Linked DNA regions of Homo sapiens: region 2 is linked to region 1. Evidence: fine-mapped expression QTL. A gene starts in region 1. The other region holds a variant in brackets. All regions are shown on one strand. Distances are between the middles of the regions.

The links.
Region 2: its variant is fine-mapped to the expression of MYO9A in blood mononuclear cells (TOPMed, PIP 0.99).

Annotation. Positions count from the first base shown.
Region 1 is chr15:72,109,394-72,125,867 of GRCh38, forward strand. It overlaps MYO9A (myosin IXA), which reads right to left and starts at 8,757. Exons shown (of 42, transcript NM_006901.4): 1 at 8,287-8,757. It overlaps SENP8 (SUMO peptidase family member, NEDD8 specific), which reads left to right and starts at 9,010. Exons shown (of 2, transcript NM_145204.4): 1 at 9,010-9,071. RefSeq lists an enhancer at 7,699-7,908 and a silencer at 8,109-8,878.
Region 2 is chr15:71,818,849-71,830,441 of GRCh38, forward strand. MYO9A (myosin IXA) reads right to left here. Exons shown (of 42, transcript NM_006901.4): 40 at 11,261-11,463; 41 at 9,036-9,178; 42 at 3,443-8,195. The coding sequence ends at 7,732. Among named protein-coding and RNA genes, the nearest start is that of NR2E3, 14 kb to the left of the region's middle. The variant C/T (reference allele first, on the strand shown) is at 8,380.

The DNA of each region.
Region 1 (16,474 bases):
AAAAAAAAAAATACACACACACAATCACACAGGGAACAATAATGCAAATATGGATGGCATAACGCTATCTTTTGAATCTAGTTGATAGACATAATTAGTGTTCTCTTCCAACTTTTCTATTTCTTTAAGATCTTAATTATAAAACAATAGGGGAGGGAAGAAAGAGAACTAAAAGAAAACAGAGTTGCAAAAGCAAAATAAGACAAAAATATTAGTCGGGTGCAGTGGTTCACGCCTGTAATCACAGCATTTTGGGAGGCCAAGGCAGGCGGATCGCTTGAGGTCAGCAGTTTGAGACCAGTCTGGCCAATATGGTGAAACCCTGTCTCTATTAAAAATACAAAAATTAGCTGAGTGTGGTGGCACACACCTGTAATCCCAGCTACTTGGGACGCTGAGGCACAAGAATCAAGAATCACTTGAACCTCGAAAGTGGAGGCTGCAGTGAGCCAAGATCGCACCACTGCACTGTAGCCTGGGCGACAGAGCAAGACTCTGTCTCACAAAAAAATAAATAAATAAATAAGGCAAAAAAAATCTAAAAATCGTTTATAAACATGTCCACACAGTCACCTAAGAACTTTCTCCCTTACATTAAAAAAAAAAAAAAAATCTAGCCAGGCAGCGTAGTGGCACACATCTGTAGTACCAGCTACTCAGGAGGTTGAAGTGGGAGGACTGCTTGAGCCCAGGAGCTTGAGTCCAGCCTGGGCAATACAGTGAGATGCTGTCTCAAGAAAAAAACAAAAAGGAAATTCCAGGCCGGGTGTGGTGGCTCACACCTGTAATCCCAGCACTTTGGGAGGCCGAGGCAGGTAGATTACCTGAGGTCAGCAGTTGAAGACCTTCCTGGCCAACATGGCAAAACCCCATCTCTACTAAAAATACAAAAATTAGCTGGGCACGGTGGCAGGCACCTGTAATCCCAGCTACTTGGGAGGCTGAGGCAGGAGAATCACTTGAACCCGGAAGCCGGAGGTTGCAGTGAGCCGAAATTGCACCACTGCACTCCAGCCTGGGAGACAGAGCAAGACTCCATCTCAAAAAAAAAAAAAAAAAAAAAAAGAAAATTCCAGAGATTACTCAGCCCACTATCATCTGATCAATAAAAATAAACAGATTTCAAACAAATACTTACACACTACAAACAGCAATAGTACTAAAATCTGTCAATTATTTAAGGAATGTTTGTCATTGACAAACAGAACACATTTTGTTATGATAACTCACACTGAATCAAATACATTCTAAAATCCATTAATCTTATATGCTAAGACATCAAGAGAAGCATTTCTTTGCAGTATTTTTTCAAAAATATTTTTTAAATGCCCCAATGCCACAAGAAATATTTTAACTGAAAAAAATCACACTTGAAAGACAACTAGTAGACAGACTGCCCTAATATCTGCTTCTTTTAGCAACAAACTTTGATTAGCCATTTATTCTAAAAGCCACACAGTGAAATTCTTAAAATTCTTGATTTCGGCCGGGCATGGTGGCTCACGCCTGTAATCCCAGCACTTTGGGAGGCCGAAGCGGGCGGATCACAAGGTCAGGAGATCGAGACCATCCTGACTAACATGGTGAAGCCCTGTCTCTACTAAAAATACAAAAAATTAGCCGGGAGTGGTGGCAGGTGCCTGTATTCCCAGCTACTCGGGAGGCTGAGGCAGGAGAATGGCGTGAACCTGGGAGGCAGAGCTTGCAGTGAGCCGAGATTGCACCCCTGCACTCCAGCCTGGGCAACAGAGCGAGACTCCATCTCAAAAAAAAAAAAAAATTATTGATTTCACATTTAAACATAACAAGAAATAGGCTGCGCACAGTGGCTCACACCTATAATCCCAGCATTTTGGGAGGCCAAGGCAGGCAGATCGCTTGAGGTCAGGAGTTCAAGACCAGCTTGGTCAATATGGTGAAATCCTGTCTCTACTAAAAATACAAAATTAGCCGGGCATGGTGGCGTGCACCTGTAGTCCCAGCTACTCGGGAGGCTGAGGCACGAGAATCACTTGAACCCAGGAGGCAGAGGTTGCAGTGAGCCGAGATTGCGCCACTGCACTCCAGCCTGGGTGACAGAGTGAGATTGTCTTAAAAAAAAAAAAAAATTAATAAATAAAACAGGAAATAGACGTATTCAAGAGGGAAAAGGAAGACTTACTGAGTACCTACTATATGCTTGGTGCTTTACATAAAAATTTTTTTAACTCCAATGATAGTCTTATGAGGCAAATATTACCCCCAATTTTTTTTTTTTTTTTGAGGCAGGGTCTCACTCTGTTGCCCAGCCTGGAGTACAATGGCATGATTACAGATCACTGCAGCCTCGACCTCCCAGGTTCAAGTGATCCTCCCACCTCAGCCTCCCAAGTAGCTAGGACCATAGGTGAATGCCACCACACTCAGCTATTTAATAATAATTTTGTCATTTTTGTAGAGACAAGGTCTCCTATGTTGCCCAGGCTGGTCTCAAACTCCTAGGCTCAACTGATCCTCCTACCTCCACCTCTGCCTCCCAATTATCCCCAATTGAGAGATGAAAATTCTGACAAGCTCTCAAACGTTAACTGACTTGCCCATAAATGACAGTTCCAAAGTTATAAGGCTAGAACTTGAATCCAGGTCTGTTAGAAATCTAGGTTTGAGAATCCATATTCTCTCCACTTAATGGATTTAAGATTCACAGATATAAAAGCCTATCTAAGGAAAAAGAATATTTAAAAGAATACAGTTATATATTCAAAGAGCTACACAATCTTACAGTTTAAGAAAAATCAAAACTGAGAAAAAGTATGCTCCAAAATTATTGCTAATTGTAAAAAAAAATAAATAAATAAAAAAAACACACACAATTTTTAGCAAGCCAGCTGTCTATGACAGGACAGCTAGTCCATTCCTCACTGTACATGTAAAATTACACTTCAGTTGCCCGCTGGATGACCCCACTGCCAAAATACGCCAGCAACATAATTCACATTAAAACCCAGAGGCCTAACACTATTTGGAAAGTGCTTTACATGTTTACTATACCTATCCCAAGCATATTTACCACTCATAATTCATAGGCCATTTTCAGCAAATATACTTTGTTCTATCATATTATTTTCTGCCACTCTAAAATCATATTAAATGTATAAAACAAAAACACCTACCTAAATATAACATCTCACAAATAAACCTTAGTAGTATTATGTTATTTTGAACTTGTCTATTGTATGAAACTATGCCATAATTGTTTCTATAACATAAATTAGGTATGTTCTTTCTACAGGATCAAAATTCCAATACCTACACTCCTTGCATGTCTAAAGATACACACAAAATAGGTACAGAAACCTATATGTTAAAGGGTTTCCCATGTAAATTAAATCCTCTATGAGCTGGATTAGTGACTAGAAGAAGGCATGAGGCAGCTTGTAGAGTTCTAGTGATATTCTATATCTTGATGTAGATGTTAGTTACACTGGTATGTTCTTAGTGAAAATTCACTGAGCTATATATTTACCAGCTGTGTACTTTTTGTATATTTTATAATTTATAAAGTCTTATATTTTTAGGCTGGGCACAGTGGCTCAGCCTGTAATCCTAGCACTTTCAAAGGCTGAGGCAGGAGGATGGCTCTAGTCCAGGAGTTTAAGACCAGCCTGGGCAACACAGTGAGACCCTATTTTTTCTGAACTTATATTTTTTAAAATGCTCAATCTAAAAACTTGTTTTACTAAAAAGCACTGATATCATCCCTCTTACCAAAGTAGTCAAACCCTAGTGAAGAAAACAGACAAGTAATTAAGCTATTTCATTAGAGGACTATGATAGAAGTAATTACTATGTGCTACAGGAGCACATAAGAATGGTACCTAACTTAATCTGAAAAGAGGTAAAGGAAATCTTCCTGAAGAATATACACCTGAACTGAATCCTAAAGGTCAGACAGAAATTAGCCAAGCAAAGAAAGGGGAAAGTGGAAATCAGGGAAATAGAACATCAAATGTAAAAGACGAGAGAGAAAGCACATTACCTGAGAGGAAGCCTAAAGTCAGTAAGAGTGGATTAAAGTATGTAAGGAAGACAGCAAGTGAAGAAAAGCTAGAGAATTAAGAGTTAGATCATGAATGATCTCATACACATGCCATGCTACAGTTTAAACTCTATCCTGAAAGCAATGAGACAGCTTTTTTGAAGATTATTCAATAGGAAAGGACATGATTTGATTTTTATCTGTACTATACATGTCAAAATTATGGTGTGGGCCATGCTCACAACCCCATTTTGCGGTAAATTAGCCTGCACACTGTCCCATACTTTCCACCATTAAGATCTTTCCTGATACCCATATATACATACAAACACACAGCCAACAATAAATGGCCAAGAGTGGTGACATAACCTAAGTACACAGACTTGTTAGCAATCAATGAGAAAAAGAGCTGAGCCAAATCTGGAATTCAAACCAGAAAATCCTAGGGAAAAGGAAGAGGTTAGCAACAGGAGCTAACCTCTTTTAAAACGTTTTAAAACAATTGCAGCCAGGAGGCAAGATGTTGGCATGGGGGTCACATAGTAGTTATAAGGAGCAGAAATTAGTAATAAATGGAAGCTATGACATAGGGGGAAAAAAACTGAAGAAAGAAACGGTATCTAGGACAAGCTAACAATGGAGCACTGGAGTGGGGTCTCCAGCTTTATTAGGTTCTTGTTCTTCTTGAGAGCAAGTTTTATTAGGTTCTTTTTCTTCTTGAGAGCAAGTTAACTTTTCCTGGGTTCCCTTGTGTATGGTTCCTTTCAATAAGCACTTCATTACTTAAGGTAACTTGAGTCTCTTCCCTCCAAGTGAAAGAGCCTGACTAAAAGAGCATTTTAGAATACTTACTCCAACAGCAGTCAAGAGAATGAACAGGAGGGCATGACAAGAGGCAGAAGACAGAAGGCAAGAAGACCACTCAGCATTACAGAAGCCCAACAAACAGATATTTTCAGTTAAAATAAGATAGAGGCAACAAAAAGTAATAAGGAATGACCTGAAATATCATGAGGGAAAATGTACAAGGCAGTGACAGACTGGATGTTGGCAGTGAAGTACAGAGTGAAGCGGAGGGCAATTCCCAGGTTCCTGAAGGTTTCATGAGGAAAGAGTGGTGCCATTAATCAAGGTAGGAAATCGGGGGGAAGAAAAAATTTTGTTGCAGTTTCTGTCTCCGGCTCTCTCTCCACTGTTTTTGTGGGGGGAAAAGAGGCAGGAAGAGTTTTGTTTCCTAAATGTTTGGATTGAAGTGTTTGTGAAATGTGAATCAAAGTGGTGATATCCATTAGGCAGTGCTTTTACAGGGGTCTAGAGCAAAGGCAAGCACTCTAGACAGCAGTTCTAGACTTAGGAATCAATACATTAAGTCAATATTGTGGTTTTTAAAATGTCTGAAAAGTCTTTGACTAATATTTATTTCAAACTGAGTTAACATAACCAAAAATCACTCCAACTAAAAACCTTAATATTCTTGGCAAATCATATTTTCAAACCTCCTACATTTCTCTGCTATTAAAGACTGAACAAACTTCCACATAGTATAATCCAAATGATTAGGAAAGATGGAGTTTATATCGCTAACTTCTATTGAGGTACTTGTTAAAAAAAATCTAAGTTTACCCAATTTCCCTCAGGAACTATATACTACTAAAATAACTAAGGGAAAACAACTGTTAAAAATTCATATATTAGATAGTGAATCTCACTGTTAATGCTTAAACTAGAATAAGTTTTTTAAAGGCACTTAATCATGTAATTTACTAATTTAAATATTCAACTCTACCTGTAATTTAAATGTTGGGTTTCCATCCTAAAACCTTTTCTCCTCCCTTCTGTATGATTTTGCCTCCAAAATCTACTGCTATCAACCCAGAACCTGATACTGAGCTTCAGCCACAAATCCAAATGCCTAATGGTCATCTACATCTGACAGAACTACAGTCACCTAAACTGAACATGTCACAAATTAACCCCTCTATCCTTCCTCCTTGACAAAATAAAAACAAAATCCCACTCCTTCATGGGAATCCCCACCTCAGTGAAAGGCACAAGCCAGAAACCTAGATTTTATCCTGTATGCAACTTCTCCCCAACCCCAAATACAATAAAATCACCAACTCAACTCCGAATATCCAAGTTCAGATCCAGTCTCACCATTTGCCTGGATAACCCTAATATTCCTGGCCTTTAGTCTTATTCTACTCTTCAATTCACTGCAGCCAGAATGACTTTTTTAAAATGCAAATCTGATCATTCCAGTCCCCTGCTTTAAAATCCTTCAATAATTTAATAAATATTATAATCATCATCACAGCTAGTCACACTGTGGAAGCTCAGAGGTTCAATGAGAAATTTAGTTACATCCTTTCTGTAGGTTCAACATAAAAGAATCATCAGGAATTTTTTTCAACTCACAAAATTATTTAAACATACATATAACATCAGACACATTTAAAAGAAAAGCATGTAACATTGTTGGTAAAAGCAAAACACCAAAAATAACCTCCAGTCCACAAAAATGGAATACTATCCAGCCAGTAAATGAGGCACTTCCATATGTATTGTTAAGAAATGACCTCTAGGATGTAGTATTAAGTAAAAAAAACAGGCTATGTATAGAATGTAAAGTATGCAACCATTTGTGTACAGTGTCTTAAAAATATAAATGTGTAGGTTTATATATTGGAAATATCACAGAAAGGATACACATGAAGCTGGAAATAGTGGTTGCCTCTAAAGAGGAAAAATGGGTGGCTGGAGAGTGAAGGCGGAACAGAAATTTTTACTACATTACTCTTCCGAAACTTTTGGCTTTTACGTCTAGTTATTATCTATAATTTTAATGTGATTTTCTCCTGTTACTTTAACATTTTTTACTGTGTGTGTGTGTATGACTACAAAGACCTCTTTATATTTCATCTTTATACCAATATTAAAATTACGTACTGATCATTTGATGCAACATTACATTTCTTTCTTGACAACTCAGGAGCTCAACTTCTACAAACATTTTATTCAACATTTTACTGCTATTGAGAAGGCTGTTGTTGGTAATGACCTCAGTGAACACTGCATGATTTCTGTACTTGCTTCTTGGAGAAGCAAGACAGCAGCACCAGGCAACAGAAGTTTATTATTAAACCGACATCGAAGCATTCAGGGATTAAGGAATGCTACAAATCTTATTTTTCTAGCAAATCCAAAAAACAGTGAATCCAAAAAAAGTCCCCTAGTATCCTTTAAAAATAAAAATAAGAAACAGTTCTAGTATCTGCAGCAATCGACAAGGAGGTGAAGTAATACTACAAGACGACATAGTTATATCCACTAGTGCAACGTGATTTAATCCTTACAGAGGTCCCTAAAACATCAGTGCTGGACAACCTCACACGTTCTACACAGAACAGACAAGACGAGGTGCAGGCTCTGTGACCTTATAATGGCACACACACAACTGGCCTCATGCTTCCATAACTTCACTCTGCCTCCCACTTTTTTCAGCCCAACCCCTCCAAACATGGGTCTCGGTCGGTCCCCTTAAGCCACAATGGAGGGAATACATTAGGCTAAGCAAATATTCCCTCAGGATTTCATGGCAAAGCCCTTTCAACCAAAGAAAGGATCGCGACTAAGGAGAAAGATAACAAGGTTTGCTTGAGGAGAGGTCTGTTGAGAGAGGCTACAGTCGGTGGTGGGAGAGAAGCCAAAGTCTGTGACGGTGTCTAGAGGGACTGACACCACATCTACCGGGAGTAAGAACACCATGACAGCGGCTATCTGAAAGCCGTGATGGCTAGGGTTAGTGCTAGTCGGCTTGGTGATGAGCGAGCTGGGAGGGGTTCTACTAAGAAGAGTAGGGCGAGGGGCACATGGGGGACGCAATGGGTTAGGGGGCGGTCGAGACTTTGCCTGAGAACTGTAATCACGTCAGCCCAAGGGAGGATGTAACGTAGTCTAGAAGCTCCATTAAGAGTCCTAAGGGACTCTGAGGGGTACTAATGGGGTCTGCTGGGTTGGGGGGACCGTGACAGAATCTCCGGGGAGGCTGGAGGGCCGGAATGGTGCCCGGCCAATGGAAGATACAGGGGGTGGGGTCTACTGGGGATCCGGGGCCGTGATCTGGTGTTTGGGAGGCTCGGCGCAGACCCGCTCGCGGGGCGTCTCCGCTGGGACGGGGCGGGGCGGCCCGACCGGAGCCAAATAGCGAGGCTGAGACGTGGGCCAGGACGGGCTGCAGGGCCGCTGGGCGCTTGGGCGGGTCTTACCTCGGGCTCCGCCGCGGTGGCCACCGCAGCCCCCTCCTCTTCGACGGAAGCTGCCTTCCACCCTCCGCCCCAGGGTAGGACCGGAGATGGCAGAAGAGGCCGAGGCCACCGAGGGTCGGACGGTTCCGGGAGGGTGGGCCCAGCAGCCTCAGGGTCCGGGCGAGCGGCCGCGGCGCATCCCCCGCCCTGTCAGAGAGACTCCGCCCGGCCTGAGCAGGCACATCCCCCGCCGCACCCCGCCCAGAGAGCACGCGTTGGACCGCCGCCTCAACCGCTGCCAGCGGCCGCCTCTGCCGGTGCAACTACTGCCTCCGCCGCCGCCTCTCGCAGTCCGGGCTGTCCTGTACTCTCTCAACAGACACAGCCAACCGCCGCCGCGTCCCTTATCCGCTTCGGTCGCGCGCCCCCGACCCCGCGCACGCGGCCCCGCCCCGCGCGACTCCCCGGCTGCAGGCGAGCAGGCGCGCGCGCACTTACCTCCCACGCCCCCTACTGCCAGCACGGGTCGGCCCCGCCCTGTCCCGCCCCCGCACGTGACGCCACTGGAGAGTACAGCGTGCGCTTGCGCAGACACGCCCCCTTTCCTACGCCCCAGGCGGCCCCGCCCAAATTTTTTCTTCTTCACCTTACGGCAGAGCAGGGAACTCAGCTTTAGATTCTCCCTGTACTGGAAAGGGATGTCGCAAGGTTGGGGACGAAACCTCTGAGTTTGCGACCGTAGCTGTCGCTTTCCGGCCAACACAGAGGTGCCTGAAGGCTGGTTGGGGTGGTGAGGCCCGAGGCAGGTAAGAAGCCTCCTCCCCACTTCGGTTTGTCTCGGCAGTGGATCGCTCTCCCACCCACTCAGATTCTGGCGTATCCGTGCTCCCTCCCGATTCTGGACCTGGATTCTCAGCGCCGCCGGTCATAGCCCCCGCCCCTTTTCAAACACGCACGCTCTCTCCACCCACTGCCCCCTCCATTGTCCCCGCCCCGACCTCCGTTTCCATTCATTTCTCAGACTTTTCACTGAGTGGTTTCCATGCCTTGGGTTCCAGAATGTCAGAGGCGAATTAAGTGGTGTCAGCTTTTTGAAGTGCTTTTGTATAGGAGACCGTGAGAGAATCCGCAGTGGTAGTACAATAAAGTGACAATAGAGAAAAATGCACGGGATGCTGTCTGCGCACAGAAGAGGGGTCCCAGGTTGTGTAGGAGGATAACGTGAGGAAGCCCTTTCCAGGGTGACTTTTGGGTCACTTTTAGAGGACTGTGTTAAAAGACTAGTAATCCAGTACCTGGTCAAAGAAATACGAAAGGAGGTAAAAGCAGAATAACGGGCGCAAGAGCATGTGACAGTGGTGGTCTGAAAGAGAAAAAAGAAGTAAAATAAACCTGATGGAAACCGTACTAGTGTAGACTTCCCTTTAAAGAAGCATCGTTATAAAGTTAGAGAAATGAGGAACGAGAATATGGCCCTCAGGAATGTTTTCTGTTTAGGTAGAAGACTCAAAAGCGTACCATGAAACCGAGAAGTGGCCTCTTCGAGGGTGAGGGAGGCTAATTTATAAGATCAAGATCACTAGTGGAACGCAACCTTGTATGTGCATTTGAATCACCTGGGAAACTTTTTGTTAAATAAAACCAATACTGTTGCCCCACTCTAGACCAATTAAATTCTGGGTTGTGCCAGGTGTCATTACTGTTTTAAAGCTCCACAGGTGACTCTAATGCTAAAGATTGAGACTCACTAAACTAGAGAGAAGGAAGTTGAGACAGTTGGCTCTGTAACATTAAGATGGAGGTCATTTAGCCGGGCGCGGTGGCTCACGCCTGTAATCCCAGCACTTTGGGAGGCCGAGGCGGGTGGATCACGAGGTCAAGAGATCGAGACCATCCAGGCCAACATGGTGAAACCTCGTCTCTACTAAATATACAAAAAATTAGCCGGGCGTGGTAGCAGGCGCCTGTAGTCCCAGCTACTCGGGAGGCCAAGGCAGGAGAATGGCATGAACCCGGAAGGCGGAGCTTGCAGTGAGCCAAGATCGCGCCACTGCACTCCAGCCTGGGTGACAGAGCGAGACTCCGTCCCCGCCCCCAGAAAAAAAAGATGGAGGTCATTTAACTACAGAGAGGCTTGGAGATGGAATGAGAAACTTGAGCGGCGTTATGTTTGGAATAACTGGTCTGGGAAATGGGAGAAGGAGCCACTCTTGCCTTTCTCTTCAGCACTGTTCATTCCTCAGTGTTTATCAGGTCCAAATTAGTTACTTGTCTCTTTGCTCTCCCGTTCCCTTCCGTCCAGGATTGGTCAGCTGTTGTCTCCAGCCTTAAAGCTCAAAGGCCATCCCCACTTCTGTCCCCAAAATGATCAGAGCTAAGCCAATTTATGAGATGCAGAGACCAACATCCAGAGCTAAGCCAATTTATGAGATGCAAAGACCAACATCCACTCTCATAGAGATTACTACATACAGTGCCTTGCCAATTTAGAATCTTTTTCTATTATTTATCATTTAAGTTAGTAATGAGATATAAAGATATTTAAAATACAGCTCAATTAGGATGGAAAATTACCGTATTAGGGAAAGCAGGCCTTTAAACAAAGAATTCACTTGGCAGGCAGAGAAGCTGTATGAGGTAAAGACCAAGACAGTGTATGGCTGCTATCTATTAACTAGGGTTAATCCAAAAACCTGTCTATCAGACCCAGATAAGAACGAGTTATTGTTGTCTAGTATGGCTAGAGCATAGTATGGAGAGTAGAGGTGGGACAGAGATGAAGATGATAAAGTGGGTGTGAACAGATTATGAGGAGCCTTGAATTCCATGGTGAAGAGTTTAGATTATATTACTAGAAGTAATTAATAAGTACAAAAAAGGTTCTTAACCTCTTTTACCCAGTGGACCTTGTTGGCAGTCCACCTTATAGATTCAGTCTCAGAAAAATGTTCTTAAATATATAAAATAGAATACGTAGTAATATAAAGGAAACTAATTTTGTTAAGTTTTTAAAATATTAAAACAAATGTGTGATATATATGCACTTTATGCATTAAATAAAATCTGGCAGCAGGTCTAATTATATAATTTCTAAGTAGTGATGACTATAAATTATATTTTGAAATGCCTGCAGCAACTTTAATGTGATGTGAAAATATCAGATTTCTATTGGTAAAAAAGAGAGTGCTAATATTGTAGTTTGTGGTCCACACTTATTGAAGAAATGCTAAATTTCAGCTACTGATTATTGAAAACAAAGATGCAATTGTTTTCCCAGTCTAAGTTCACAGAACCCTGATATTCTAGCCACATCCTGGTCTATGGATCCTAAGTTTTAAAATATCTCAGTATAATGGTTTTAAGCAAGAGCATGACATCAAATCTGTGTTTCAGAAAAATGATGAAGCAGTGTTCACTTCCCAACCTCTCTGCTGGGATGAGAGGCTGGCTCTGGGGCAGCAACCAGTACTATCCCACTGTTTCCTAATAACCAGGGCCTGCAGAGGGACTGAGCTTGTGGGTGTATATGTCTGTGAGAGTAATACCAGAAAATAAATCAGGAAAGGTAGATTGGGGCTATTTTTGTGGAAATCATTGAATGCCAGGCTGTAATTTGTAGTTACTTTGGTAGACAATGGAGGGTTGTTAAAATTTTTTGGAGTAGAATAATGTGATTAGAGTTCTGTTTGAAAATCTAGAATAATGTGCAGGTTAGATTATCAAAAGAGAAGATAGGAATGAAGAGACTAGAACAATAAGTTAATTAATTTTTGAAAAATGGAATCTTGGGCCAGGTGCAGTGGCTCAGGCCTGTAATCCCAGCACTTGGGGAGGCTGAGGCAGGAGGATCACTTGAGCCCAGGAGTTCAAGACCAGCCTGGGCAACAAAGTGAGACCGTGTCTCTCCAAAAAAAAAAAAAGAAAATTAGCCAGACATAGTGGTGCCTGCCTGTGGTCCCATCTACACGGGAGACTGAAGCAGGAGGATTACATGAGCCCAGGAGGTCGAGGCTGCAGTGTTCATGCCACTGCACTCCAGCCTGAGTGACAGAGAGCCTGTCTCCAAAAAAAATCTTGAGGTGATCTCTAGAGTCTGCTAAATTCCTTTATTTCCACAATGTGCTGACCAGTCTAGAGTAACATACATTGGAATAAATGGCATACCTGTCAACAGGAATATATACCCCAGTGTGGGAGTCAGTTAACTTTATGTGGTCAAGAGGCTAGCCCAGTCTTTTGTATTATAAATGATATTGTTAGTACTTCTAATAAAGCAATGGCCTTACCATAAGTTCACAGATCTTGCCAAGGCCTTCCTCAGTCAAACTCCATCTATACCTGTGAGTCCTACATTTCTGACTTTTAAAAGTCAGAACCTGTCTATACCTGTGAGTCCTACATTTCTGTCTTTTAAAAGTCAGAACTCCTCTCTTTTTGCCAATTCCTTAAACTTCTTGGATGGGAAAGAAGTTTAGTTTAAACACATTAGCAAAAGAATGGGAGGTCCTCAAGGCCCAGGCAACCCATCTCCTTTGAAACTGATCAATACCGGACTATAAAAACTTACTGCTCAAATCCAGCTAGTACCCAAAGTATGTACTGTCTATATACCTGTCTATACCTGTGAGTCCTACATTTCTGACTTTTAAAAGTCAGAACTCCTCTCTTTTTGCCAATTCCTTAAACTTCTTGGATGGGAAAGAAGTTTAGTTTAAACACATTAGCAAAAGAATGTGAAGTCCTCAAGGCCCAGGCAACCCATCTCCTTTGAAACTGATCAATACCGGACTATAGAAACTTACTGCTCAAATCCAGCTAGTACCCAAAGTATGTACTTTTTAAATGTATTCTAAAAAATTGAATTTGGGGTTTAGGTATTACTGATCCAAATGAGTCCTATAAAATTAACTTCCAGAACTAGGTTCTCAGAGAGGCCACCATTACCACCTTCTTCAACATAACTAGCCTATATTGACTTTCTGTCCATCAAATAATTGGAGGCCATTTGGGTGGTGATAGGAAGAATTAAGTTTATGCAGAACTTGAGGTTCAGCTATCTGACACCTTTTGCGGGAGGAGGAGGAGTGGGTCTATCTGAAATCAGAAATAATACTTTTATGAGGCTTTTTAATAATTTTTATTACTTACAGAAAATTTCTGAAAGTTCCTTTCTCTGGCTCCCAATTAAATGGCTTACTCCACAATCAACTTATAAAAGCACTGGATCATTGTCTTGATCCCAAAAAATTTGTCCCAACTATAGTTACTATTTTGAGCATCTGTATTATTGTTTGAAAACCTTAGGCTTGCTTTCCCTGATGGCCAATGAATAAAACTCTCAAAGTCGTGTGATTCATTACTCATTAATTCATTAGATATTTATTGAACCTCTACTATGTGCCAGGCACATTTTTGAAACCCACTAATGAGCAATTTGTAATGACAATTTACCTCTTAACTATCTATGAAAAAAATAACTTGCCAGGATTTGAAATCCTTAGAACAAATGAGATTAAAAGATCATAGCTTTTTTGTGTTCTTTCAAATAGTGTGTTTGCATAGAGCTGCCATGTGCTGACCACAGTGATTATCTGTGAAATGAGGTAAATCATGGCTTTAACCACTCCTTATCAGACTTTGTTACCACATGTACTAAAATAAAGTTCTGTCTACACCTTTATAAAATATTATCTTACACAGACGTCTTATTAATTCTAATGGCCTCTCCACACCTGACCCTCACTCCTAGTCATTTCAAAGTTTGCAATTGTGTAAAGTCATTTCTCAGAAAATTTGAAGCAAAACAAAGTCACCACAAGAAAAACTTGGTATACACCAGGTTTATATTGAGGACAAAAACTGTGACACAATTACAAATGGAACTTTTTTTTTTTTTTTTGTGATGGAGTTTTGCTCTTGTTCCCCAGGCTGGAGTGCAGTGGCGTGCTCTTGGCTCACCACAACCGCCACCTCCTGGGTTCAAGCAATTCTCCTGCCTCAGCCTCCCGAGTAGCTAGGATTACAGTTGTACACTACCACGCCTGGCTAATTTTGTATTTTTAGTAGAGACAGGGTTTCTCCATGTTGGTCAGGCTGATCTAGAACGCCCGACCTCAGGTGATCCACCCGCCTTGGCCTCCCAAAGTGCTGGGATTACAGGCATGAGCCACCGCACCCAGCCTACAAATGGAACTCTTGAGGTAGAAATGGTAGACCAGGAATAAAATTATTTTCATGGTCAATGACACCTTAGCCATTGATAGCTGTGCCTAGTTACAGAGCAATAAATGGAGAGCCTTGGTGTTAGATGAAATCCTAAAAAGTCACCTGTTTTATCTCCTTGGCCCCAGACAGAATAAAGTGGAATTTATAGCAGTAGAGTTACCAAGCATCATCATCACACCAAGTAGGTTTTGTACTTTGAGAGCTGAATTCCTCTCTGAAATATTGATGTTACAGGAATGTTGTTTAAATTCATAGCTCATTTATAAAATTGAGAATATTTCTTACATTTATAACTGTGTTGTGTTTTCCTGAGTTTTTCAAGATATGTTTCACTTCTGTACTTTGCTCACTCAGGAAAAATATTTATTTATTAAAACTCTAGCTTGTCAGGCACTGAAGTTAGAAGGATGAGTAAAATCTAATCTGTGTACTCAAGAGGGTTATATAATAAATCTTGATGGTCATTCTTACATGCCACATTATACAGATCTCCAGATGGCTTAGGCTTAGTTTTAAAAGGAAACGTTTTAATTGGGGGGAAATTGAAACCCCAAAAAAAAGCCATGAACTTCCTTCCTGGAAATATTTTTGCCATAAAAAGCATATTTGGTCTTGGATGTGATTCTTTTTGTGAAAGTGCAAGTTGAATCAGACATTAGAAGTTGGACATAATCTTCTAATTTTAGTAAACATCAAATTATTTTTAAATATTTGTGTTTGAACATTTATGGAAAAGAGATTAGATTTACCTGTTTTATCCAGAGGACAGAAGTAAGACTCAGAAGTTGAAAAAATGGAAATATTTTATGTCATTATAAGAGTGGGAACTGGTACATCTTTTATTCCTCTTCAATATGGAAATCACTGTATTTACTAATTATGTGTTCATTATTAAAAAAGGGGGAAAAATTAAAGCACAATATCAAAAGGTAGAAGGAAAAAGGCAAAAAAGTATTAATCCTATTTCTTAAAATGATATTTACACTTGATGGATATCGTTCTTGATTATTTTTCTGTATATTTTTATCATATACAGATGTTTATATCAAAGCATATTATGAACATTTTTCTTTTAATAAATTTGTATTGACAATATTATATTTAATGGCTGAAAACTATTCCATCGTGTGGAAACCCTGTTGTTTAATTTACCAGTCCTTTTTTGAACTCCAGATTGTTTCCAGTTTTTCTGTTACAAATACTGCCATGGTGAATATCTTGTTGAATTTTTGCACACATTGTTAATGTCTCCCTTAAGTTAAATTTCTTAAAGTATAATACCTACATATATAAATTTCTTAAGAATTCCAATATAATGGCAAATTACCCTTGAAAAAGCTTGCATGTATGACAGTCCTATCAAAATGGGGCATCATTTACTCATTTCCCATAATCTCTCAGCAATGCTAATTATTATTAGTTTTCTTCACCTTTGCTAACTTGACAGGTAAAAAAATGAAATTTTATTTTAACTTACATTTATTTGATTACTACTCTGATGTCCAGTGTCTTTTCATGTGTTTATTGACTAGTCATGTAAGTGTATTAACTAATATTTTCTAACAATTTTTTTTTTACTTTTTAACATTTAAATTTGTATTCTATCTAAAATATAATTTGATGTAAGGTATGAGGTAAAACTCTTTACTTTTTTAATCAAATAATTAACAAGTTGTGCCAATGCTACTTATTAAAAAATCCAGCAAGCATATCCCATACTTCAATATACAGATAATAAAGTACTGATAGATATTCCTCCAAAAAAAAGAAAGACTATTTCGTGGTTAAATAAGTTTGGGAAAAGATCATACGAAAAAAAGTTAAAATTTTTTATCGCCAAACTCTCGTTAGCCTCTAGTGTGTGTGTGTGCATTAGGAGTTAGCATTTCCTAATTTAATTAACCATGTAATCTTTTTTCTTTTTTATTTATTTATTTATTTTATTTATTTATTTTTTTGAGATGGAGTCTCACTCTGTCGCCCA
Region 2 (11,593 bases), 290 kb before region 1:
TCCACCCACCTTGGCCTCCCAAAGTGCTGGGATTACAGGTGTGAACCTAATCCTTTTTGAAGATAGACCCAGATGACTGTGAAAATAATATTTTAACATGTTAACATAGATCAGGCAATGTATATATTAATAGCAGGCAGTGAGCCGGGCACTTTTTAAATTGCCATTTAATCCGCAGATTAACTCTGAGGGAAGAGCCAATTTTCTCCATTTATAAGTGAAAAAACTGATGCTTAGAGAGGACTCAAACCTTGGTGTGACTCTACCTAATGCTGCTTAACTTTGGCACCGCCTCTTTCCCAACTTCCCCTTCACTTTTGGAATGAAAGACTGAACAATTCTGTTGCATTTTCTGCCTTCAAAGGATAAGTGTTTGAAATCAAGACAGAAAGGGTCATGTGAGAAGGCTGAGAAATCCTAGGGGTTCCCTGTCCTTTGGCTTGTGTTTGAATTCCCTTAGCTGACAGAAATGCCCTATCTACTCAGGAACTCAGAACCGCTAGGGCTGGTGCCAGAGAGGAAAGAGTATGGCAAATGCTGCCCAGCTGAAGCCCTTCTTACTTCAGCCCCTAGGCTACTTCAGATTCTCTCCAACTTTTCAAAGTATCAGAGTGGCCTCAGTTAATCGGTCAACTAATGTCTATAATGCCATTATACAGTCCAATTCCCTATCAAAAGTTTTATCCATATGAGCTAAGCCCTGAGCAAAGCCACCTTAGTAAGACACATGGTTGAAATATGACATGACCAGCCCTGCGTATGTATCTTACAGTTTGGCTTTGGAGGACATGGTAAGACTGCAAAGGTAGCCTGCTGAAGTTCACAGGCTAGCATCTGGGATGTGTGAGCCCAGCACATCTACATTGGGAAGGAGATTTGAGGGCTCTCCAAGAAGTCTTGGAGAATTAGAGGAAGTACATAAGCTGGATTGTCTGCTGTCAATCGGGCATCAATACCACCCCTCCCCCACTTCTAAGGGCTTTTCTTCACTGCAGAGATGCCAGGAAGGAACTACATTTCCCAGAAACCCTTTCCCCTAGGATTTGCTAATGAAAGACACTCACAGGAGATTTTTTCCCCCCTAATGCCAAACTGATTAAATTTGGCATTAGGAAAAAGAGAAGCCATTTTTCTTTGGAGACACTGCAGCCCTGTCGTGGGAAAATAGATTTCATAGCAGCCTCCTGGCTAGAATTGCACTAGCTTCCAGGCAAGCTCTTGAGAACTCCTCTGGAACTTGTAGCTGAGATTTGCGTTGGCTTTCTTGACCTGTGGGAATATCTCTGACCTTTGTTAGATCCTAATTTCTGTATTAAGTCCATCTCACCTGGAATACAAAGTGGCCTCTGTTCTCCTAACCTGGTACAGCTCTCAGCATGTCTTACAGACAAGAATACAAACTCCTGTTTGTAAACCACCTAGGATGATGGCAGCCATTATTCAACTTCTTGTTGTAGATTGGCTCTACAGAAATTCTGATGAGTAATGGCTTTTCCATTGCATTTAGGGTCCTTATTAGGAGGGTAGATAATTTGAAAGCTTTTTTTTTTCCCCCTCAATGCCAGAAATATCTTTGGCTATGAAGCACCACAGAGGTAGTCCCTGTGGGACTATCTGGGCCTTTCTTTTCAAATAAAGCTAGTTTTTAGATTCACGAGACACTCCTCTACCCACAAGGGGATATTTCAAGGTAGGAAGGGCAGGGAAAGACTCAAAGATGCCAAGAAGCGCAACCTCATAGTCAAACCCAGGTATCATGGATGACTAGTCTCTATCTGGTGGACATCACTGGTGTTCCCCACTAGAATGCAGGCTCCACAGGGCAGAGATCTTTGTTTTGTTCACTAATGTACCCTAAGCACCTAGGACAATGCCTGTGGGCACTACCTGGAAGTGACACACTCCTTGACTGTGAGTCTGAGATACCTACAAGATTCAACAGTCAGATATTACATGTACTTTATCTACTTTCATGTTTATATCTCTGGCTCTAAGACACTGTACTGCCACCCATTCTAGGGGCAAAAGCAATTTAAAAAACAAACCAAACCAAAGCTGTGGTCACTTTATAACTTGCCTCTCCTTATATACCTTTCTGTTCTCAGGTCTTCATAATCACAATAGTTGTCTTCTCAGTAATCATCTCAGGGGCAAGTTTTAAGAATGTATTTCGGCTGGGTGTGGTGGCTCACACCTGCAATCCCAGCACTTTGGGAGGCCGAGGCAGGCAGATCACCTGAGGTCAGGAGTTTGAGACTAGCCTGGCCAACATGGTGAAACACCGTCTCTACTAAAAATACAAAAATTAGCCAGGCATGGTGGCAGGCACCTGTAGTCCCAGCTACTTGGGAGGCTGAGGCAGGAGAATCACTTGAACCTGGGAGGTGGGAGTTGCGGTGAGCCGAGATTGTGCCACTGCACTCCAGCCTGGGTGACAGAGTGAGACTCCATCTCAAAAAAATAAAAATAAATAAAAATGGTATTTCTAGGTTTTATTTGGGCAACTAAGGGAATTTTAAACAATTAACACTTCATATTTCAATGTAATATAAATTTAATGCAAAAATGAAAATGTAAATGTAACGTAAAAACAAGTGAGAAGGATGACCCCAGAATTTTAAAAATTGAATACATTTGGCATTAGGGACATGTTTTTTTCCCCATGTAACCTCAGACCTGATTTGGCATTTTGGAACCACTGATCCTAGTCAATCCTCTCATCCAATATCTGCCTAGCCAGCACCTTTTATTAGGTGCTGGGATCTAAGAGTCAGCAAGACAGGTAAGTGTTTGACGCTGTGAAAACTGAGAGCTGTTGAGAACACAGACCTCTAACCCAATTCACAGGGTCAGAGCAAACTTCCTAGGACAACTACCTTTTATACTAAAACCTGCGAGTCAGTAGGAGTTCTCCAAAGCTGGGAGTTTGGGAAACAGAACTGACTTCCAGATAAGAAAACTAACATTCAGAGAGAGCGAATGCCTTTCCCAGACATGCAGTAAAGTTGGTAGCAGAACAAAAATGACAAACTGAGTTAAAATTTCTGTTCCTATTGCAATGTGTTGCTTTGAATTTCAGTGAGAATCCTTGGGCCCTCTATTGGCAACCTCTATTAGCAACTTCTTCAAGTGGCCAATTTAGGGGAGGATCCTAAATGCAGATTTACTGCTTTTCCTCCCTTCTAGCCTTAAACCGATTAAATGAAGTCTTGACAGCCAGCAGCCTGCATCCACTACAGAAAAAACGACACCTTGAATCACACCTTCACTTGAATTCAGTTGAGTTCCAGTGACTACCACCTCTGTGCTTTGTCAACTTTGGGTTGAGTCCTTTCCTGAAAACACATCAGTGTAACTAAGAAGTCACTGCTGTTTCTTGGAGTTGGGTTGGAATAGTTGGAGTGGGAGCCAGGATGGTTGGAAAACAAACCACACATATTGCTGCTTCTGGAAGCTTTGTTCTTTAATGAGCCATGGGGTGATTTGTTCATCAAGCTGCTTTTGTGTAGCCATACAGTGCATATTTTGAGTGACACAAACTGCACTTTATACAGATGGTATCTTGTTACCCCTCAACCCCCCAGCAAAGAAAAAAAAACAAAAAGGAAATTACAAAGTGCCTATTGATTGCATCCGGAATGTAATCAGTTCCGTGGGTGAGATAAATCATTCTTCTTATAGAATTATTCTATTAAACAGTAAAATGTTATATTTCACAGGATATGTCCTTTTATAATACAGTTTTTAAAAAAAATTTACACTCAGCATACTTATAAATTACTTAAAATCCATTAAAATAATATAATACGAATCTGTAGTCCACACCTTTCCCATAGTAAATACAAATACTTGGTTCAAAAGGTGCAACTTTTATATGACCTCAGAGGGCTGATAAATAGGCATTAAGAATGGATGACTAGCAAGGTGACAGGCCCATTGTTGGGGCTTTTTTGAAAATAGTTTCAACCAGGGGACCAACATGAGACCTAATAGATCCATCTCCACAATCATCATTTTGCTGTTACCCTTTCAATACCCAATCAAATGTGGGAGTCATTCCAGAGAAAAGTGGTTAAAAGTAGTCTAGGGCATAGAAAAAGAGGACTCTCACAGATACCAAGGAGTTTTACTACCAAGGCCAGCATGGTATTGCAGGACAGTGCTGGGGAGTTGTCACAAGAGTATGGGTGGACATAACACATTTGTCCATACAGAATGATGCATGCCCCGCATCCAGCTTCCCACCAAGAAGAAAAAAGAGAGGAGGATGAGGAAAGCCATGGAGTGAGTATGTATGTTTCTTTTTAAAATGAAAACTCTCTTAGCTTTGAACACATCCTGAGAATCCTTTCTTCTTTCTAGTTTACCAAAGTGCTTGTTACAGTGAAAAACACAGCCCACAGGCACTGAGGTGGGACTACAGAACCTTGCTGGACCACATCTTTTCAGCACATTTCTGTGACCCTCTGTTTTTGATGGAGAAAACAACGCTACTGTTATGAAACACAGAATGGAGTCTTCATTAATCTTCCAGCAGGGTAAGTGCTCTGGCAGGTTTCCAAAGCATGAGAAGGTGGGGGCTCTAGTATTCCATCCCAGGACCTCTGGCCCTTTTGTCTCTCTCTGCAAGGCTCATAGTTGGAGGGCTGTATCTCCCTTTGTGTTTTCAGAAGCCCAGAGTGGCAAAATAATTTAAATGGCAGGAGGTACAAAGTACGTTGTAAACTAAGCCTCCCTGAATCCTGCTGTATTTGCTGTTGATTTGCTTCAATTTGTGATACAGAATGAAATCACACTTCTCTGCTTTTGTTACATTTTCCATAATAAGTACATACTAAATTACAGGGATACATTCACTTTAATGGGCAGAGTTGAAAATTCAGGTTTTGTTTGGGGCTGGGAATGTGTGCTGTGAGAAGAGTGCTCTGCATTTTGGAGTATGGGCTCCAAATGTGGAGCTGCCCCACTGCTGCCATGCAGAGATCAAACAAGCAAAGGAGAAGCACTATGGAACCACAAATGTGATGCATATTAAGGGCTAACAGTTTCATAAGTGATTGTAATGCGGCATCACTTTGTGGTGACATAACTTTACCATGCAGAGGGCCAGTGAGAACAGATGGATGCAGACACAGCGTTTGGTTCTGAAGGTTTTTAAGAGTTATGGCTTCATCTCTTGATCAGGCCAACAAGGCCTACTACCCTATGTAAACAACGGCTTTCCCTCAAAGGGAGGGCCCCACACTGCTCTCCACTCTTATCATTTTGTGGCTCTCTCCTCCTCACCCACCCACCCCAATCCTGGCAGATTAAATTACTAGAAATCCACAAATCTAGCAACTGAAAAAACAAGTTTTTTTAATTGAATTTTATCCAAACTGGAGTTTCAGGTCCCTGAGAAAAATTATAAAGTCTCTTAACATCCATCACCTAGTTCCTTTAAAGTGACCTACATCAGTCGTTTTTTAACTGCCAAAAAACTTATTTTGCCAAAAAAGCCCCACAAAGATTTAGAAGGAAGAACATGTGCCAACATATGTTCTTCTGGCCATTCCTCTGGGCCACAGGAAATTATTCCATAAGGGCAATCTCTTTTTTTCATACAGGATTTAACCAACATTCTGGAGCAAGTGCAGAGTAACAATTAATGCCCAGCAGTACACTACTCTCCCAAGAACACTGAAACACAGACTGTGCAACCTGGCACGGGGCTGAGGAACCAGCAATCCCACTCTAACACACCATGCTGAGGGGTTTTCCTCTATCCTCTAGGAGATTCTCTGAAATTCAGATTTTTAAAAGCTTAACATTATTTATTACTCCTCAGGACAAGATGAACAAGGTGGCAGATGTCTGTGGGATATAAAGCATAACATTTGCTCATTAACTATCATTATTCTGGAGATTTTAATGGCTTCCTTTCTCTGGCTCAATTCTGAACCCAAAGTAGGGAGAGGTAAGACTCCTGCTACCTTTAGCTGCCACTCAGAATTATGCTCCAAGTCTAACCTCTGGGGCTGGCCAATAACCACTGAGGCAGTGGCGTGAGGTTCAGTGTTGTGTAACAGGAGAGAGAGACTCTGCCTTAACAAAAGACTTAATATTTCCACAACTTCAAAGAAGTATGAAAAGGAAGAATACCCAAAATACAGGTTATAGATGGTAAAGGCTCTTTTTCAGAGCAGTGCATGTAGTAGCAAGACAAGATGCATTTAGTAACTTTAAAAATAAACATTTCACATACTTATCTCAAGAAAGGCTATCATGTTTCATTTTTTATATATTATAAATAGCAAAAACAGATTTCTAATCCCACAAATGCTAAGATACTTAAAATGCTATTATAACTCATGTGTATGAAGACCACCCAGTGGTGAAAATGATGTCTTACTAATTCCCTCAACCCAGGGACGAATGGCTCTCATCCCCCTGTCCAGTGGCCCCTCATCTGTGGGAAGAAATTCCATGGGAAGGAGGGAAGCACAAGGTTAAAAAGAAATATGCCTACTATACATACATATTTACAATAAACTTCAGTAACCAGAATATTAACAAAAATAGCTTCAAGTAGTCCTTGATTTTTTTCCATCTATTTAATACTGATAGTCTGAGAAAAGGAAGATAAAAGTTAGTTAGTTAGATAGGTCATATTAAAAACCTTTTTATTTTTTGGCAGCTTTCTGTAACACTTACTTACTTATTCATGCAATATTGTATGTGAATGTTTTTGGAAACTAACTAAACGGTCACATTATTTGTTTGTTTGTTTGAGTCTGAGTCTGTGGTGGGAATCCACCAGCAGATGAACAGGCTCATATGCGGTTTTCGGTTTAATCTATACAAAGAGAAAAGCCTGAATGGCTTAGGATGAAACCTTCATAAGTTTAGGGATCACCATGTCTCTGGGAAACTAAAAAATAATGTAGAAGAATCTGATCCTAGGACCAAGAAACATGAGAACAGTATGGCTACTGACACTTCAGCCCATGCAATGTATTTGGCAGGAACTAAACAGGAGTTAAACCAGCACTGATTACTATGACATCAAACATCATCAAAAAAAATAGGTATTCTCTTCTTCACTGTATAACAAGATATCTGAGACACGCTCTGATGGCTTAATGGAAACAATCACGGTTTTTTTTTGTTTTTTTTTTTTTGTTTTTTTTTTTTGTTTTTGCTTTCCCCAGAATATAACATGGAGTGTTTTTTCAGAAATCTTAAAATAGAGGGATTAGGCTTTTTGTTTGTAAGTAAGTTTTTGGAAAAAAATTATATTCTACCCTAGCTCCTAACTATCCCAAAATAAACCCAAAGGCTTTTGCTTTCACGGTTAAGAAAGATTTATACGTTTTCTTCAAATGTCAGAAATGAGAGGGTCCCTCAGGACAGCAATATCCCCCCTAGTTCAACACCCACCTTTGGGAAGGGAAAAGAGGGTGGGGGAGAGGCAACTACAACTGACCCAAATCCCCAGGCCCTAGGTGGCTTTGTATAGTAAAAATCTCAATTCAAATACAACAGCCAAGGCACAGCTGGCACCATCCCCAGCAGGCTTTCTGCTTCTGCAGGAGGCCCAGGAATTCAGCACATACAGTCTTAGCCATATGCTTAGAAAAGAGGCAGGACCACAATTAGGATTGACTATTGTGGACGAGGTGATGAAACGCAGCCCCAAAGGTGAGATTTGTTTACCACTCTGTAGCCACGGAGGGACACACATCTGCCGGTTCAGACCATAAATTCATTATTTCCAAAGAGTGCTAGCTGTTGGTTGGAGGTGCAGTCTGGGTCCACAGTTTTTCTGCGGCCAGACATGACTGTCCCCTCTGGGGTCTCTTTGGTTTTCTGAGGTGAGTTTTTCACATTCTTTAATTTTTGTTTGCCCTTTTCCGGGTTGAAGGTTCCTCTGCTGATGAACTGAGGCTTGTCTTCCAGGAATTTGGTCTGGCCCAATGGTCCTTCCATTCCCAGGGCCTCATTACCTGAGGCAGCTCGGTAGAATGGAGATTTGGAATAAATCTGAAATAGTTTTCTGGTCCCATGAGATGATGCCGTGTTAGACAGACATAAAGAGGAGACCGAAGAGTCCACGACATCTAAAGAGTCTTGCTGCTTTTTAAGTTGCTTTCGCAACTTGCTGGAAGGTTCAGACTTGCCAGCTGTCTTCAGGGAGCTAAGGGCTAAGCTTCTTTCTAATGCAAAAAAGAGACCAAAGATGTAAATGACAGTGCCCTCTAAAGCAAATCATCATATAATGAATAGATGCCACTGTTCACACATGAAATTGGGTGGGATAAGATTCAGAGGGTCCAGGATGACTTACTATGGGCACAGTCACAGTAAGAGCTCACCATCCATTTCTCTATGTAGCATTTC[C/T]GAATCATCTCCAAGGAAATCTGGTGTTTGACTATGCCATCAGCGGAGGCCTAGAACAGTCACTATCATTTCAAAAACTGCCAGGATATGCAGGTAAGTCCTACATCTCCCTGAGACATGCCACCCAGTTAAACACCTCCTTTGTATATGTATATAGTCCCACCTCACAGTGGGGGCACAATGCCTGCCACCCTCAGAAAATGGGTTATGGGTCAGTAAGACAACATATATTGTGATTATTGGCTTTTCTCTGTGGTAAGTACAGGATAAAACATTAAATTACCAAAAAACAAAACAAAACAAAACAAAAAACAAAAAACTCAATCACGTTGAAGAGTTGGTTTGATAAACAATGTATATGGAAGCTTTACAAAGACAACAGGAAAAAAAAGACCTTCCGTGGAAGTCAGGAATCTAAGTAGCAAAGACAATTATATTTCTTATCCCCTTATATTTCTTATCCCCATCCAGGTCACTACCTGTATGCCAAACGATGAAGGCTAAAATTATATGGATAAAAGGACAAAATTCCTCAAGACTTTGTTATTGCTGATGTACAGTCAGTAAATTCTTAAAAGACTTTGTCTTAGTTTTGGAATCTTTATTCCTCCTTTGCAAAACAAATCTGGAGTCTTTGGTCTACCATGTTCACTTACCTGATTTCTCAGAGATAGCATATTCAGACTCCATATTCAAATTCTCTGAGCTATCAGCAGTCCCAATGGAGGCCTCAGACTCAAGGGTTTCATCATCAGAGGCACGGGGTTCCAGTACAAGCATCTCAAATGTTAGCTCCTCCCTGTAAGACACAATCAAGAAACCATTAGCATTTGATAGGAAGTGGAAGGAAGATAACAGAAAAAAAGATCCTCCATGGAAGTCAGGAATCTAAGAAGCAAAGAGAGTCCATTTTTACTGTCCCCATCCAGGTGGTGATGAGGACCTGTATGCCAAATATGGTGAAGGCTAAAACTATATGGACTAAAGGACAAAATGACAGATAGCCAATCTAGGACCAATAATAGGGGTAAGGGTAGGGTGAAGAAAGATGTAGTGGTGAGATCTTTCAGTAAAATGAACTCTGGACTGATAAGCAGGAGATCAGGGCTCTAACCTTGTTCATAATATCCATAATGCATCAGGAAAGTACCTTTCTCTTCTGGACCTCAGCTTCCTACCACAAAACAAAGAGATTAAACTAGATAACCTCTAAGATTCCTTCCAGCTCTTAAACTATTTTCCATGAAGCTTACTAACTGGCTATAGACGATACCCTCTATCTTCACCACAGAGACCTCTAGACGAAGAAAAACACTGATTGATCTTTTCTGTCCTTTGAAGCTTATGCCATCTTCAGTTGTCGTATTCTCTAGTCTCCCTTCTTCATCACGGTCACCCAGCTACCTCTCAGTAATGCCCCACATTCTGTGAGGTCTTTGGTACTCAGATCCTAATCTTGCTTTTTCACTAATGCCTGACATCACCTGATCTATTCAATTAATATCTTTGTAAAAACTCATCTGAATATTCTAACACTGAAGTTCCTTTATGTCTGCAACTTCTAACAATATTCTCCTCTACTTTATCTAAGCTACTTTCTCCAATGCACAGATCCTGGAGCTTGTCATTACTCTGAATCCAACACTCCACCCTGTTCACAACCTCCTTATCCTTCCAATTCTTACTCACCTTCTAATCAAGTCTCTTCCCTAACAGAGCCCCTTACCTTTACTTCCCCTTTACCTGGCTTGAGATCCATGAACAATCATTTCAAGAACAGTATCACCAGCATTACAATTGTCTGAGGCCATGTGCATTCTGAGACTCTGCTCGTTCTTCTTTCTTTTTCTAGAGACTCTCCCCTTCCTTGAAAATTCCTATTAATCCTTCAAGACTGCCAATATCATCTGCATCAAAGCCAAACTGGGTCTTCTTTTCAGATCACTCTTCTAGCAAATAGCCCCTGGTCAATGTACATCATCTTTGCCTTATCATGTTTTTTACAGCTGAGCCCCAGCTGCTTTTTTAGCTGGCCTATATTCCAGAATCAATCATGAGAGACCAAGAAAGTATTTTAACAGTCTTATATCCCCTTATAAACCAAACTCAAGACCTGGGATCCTGGAACTCAGGAATAAAGATCCCATTAAGACTTCCTAAGAGTCATCAATGTCGACCAGAACTATTACACAGCACCTGTAGGGAGAACCATGGCACGTTCATATTATCCCCAAGGCATACTGTCACCCAATCCCTGCAACAGTGATGAATGGAGGTAAAAGAGCTTCTCATTTGTCTCTCTCCTAAATTGCAACCAATTTCCCTATCTAGTATCCTAGCACCCTCTAGGGCTATAGCCTTACTATGACCATCTAGTTGCTGTTCCCATGGTCATATGGATCTTTGGCTAATAACCTTCCTTCATGGATTTGTGAATAATGCCCATTCTTGAAAGGGACTTTGGCTTAGCCTAAGAATTCCTTCTCTTCTTTGCAAAATAAATCTGTTCATGGAGGCTGGTCTCCGACCTGTTAGGACTCCAGTACCTCATCTTGGCTCCCCACTGTTACTGCTAGATGAATCGTGACTAAGACTGACATGCCCTGTGGATACTGTGTCCTCCTCCCAGTCAGCCTCTACAGACCATCACTGTAGCAGCCTCAGGTTTCCCAGCTCATGGAACTGGCTTCCCAGAGGGAACAACTCTCACACTGTTACCTGAGTATAGACAACACGTCTTTGTCATCTCAACATCTCCTGTATCATCTGACACAGTGTTTAACACACAGGAGATAATAAATAAGAAAAAATAAAGAAACGATAGAAGGAAGGAAACAAAAACAGACTATAACTGTCTCTCCCCTTCCTCCTGGATACTCACTTCTCCTTCTGTAGGTTCTCAATCTGCTCAGTCAGTACTCTCTCCTCCTGCTGCATAGCTGCTTGCTGCTGTTCTGTGATGTCAGTCTCCATGGCTGCCTCACTAGTCAAGGTCTCCTCTGAGACATCAGACACAGAAGGCAACCGAACTACAACAGGAGACGATGGACCTGGATAGTTTCCTCGACGAATACGCCCCTTTCCCTGCAGAGAAAAATTCATGTTAGAAAGTAAATTGAGTGACTGCATCAGTTTTACATTGCTCTTTTAGGATAACAAGTGTATTTCCATCACACCAGGTGAATGATAAGAATAAATGGAAACACTCTGCGAG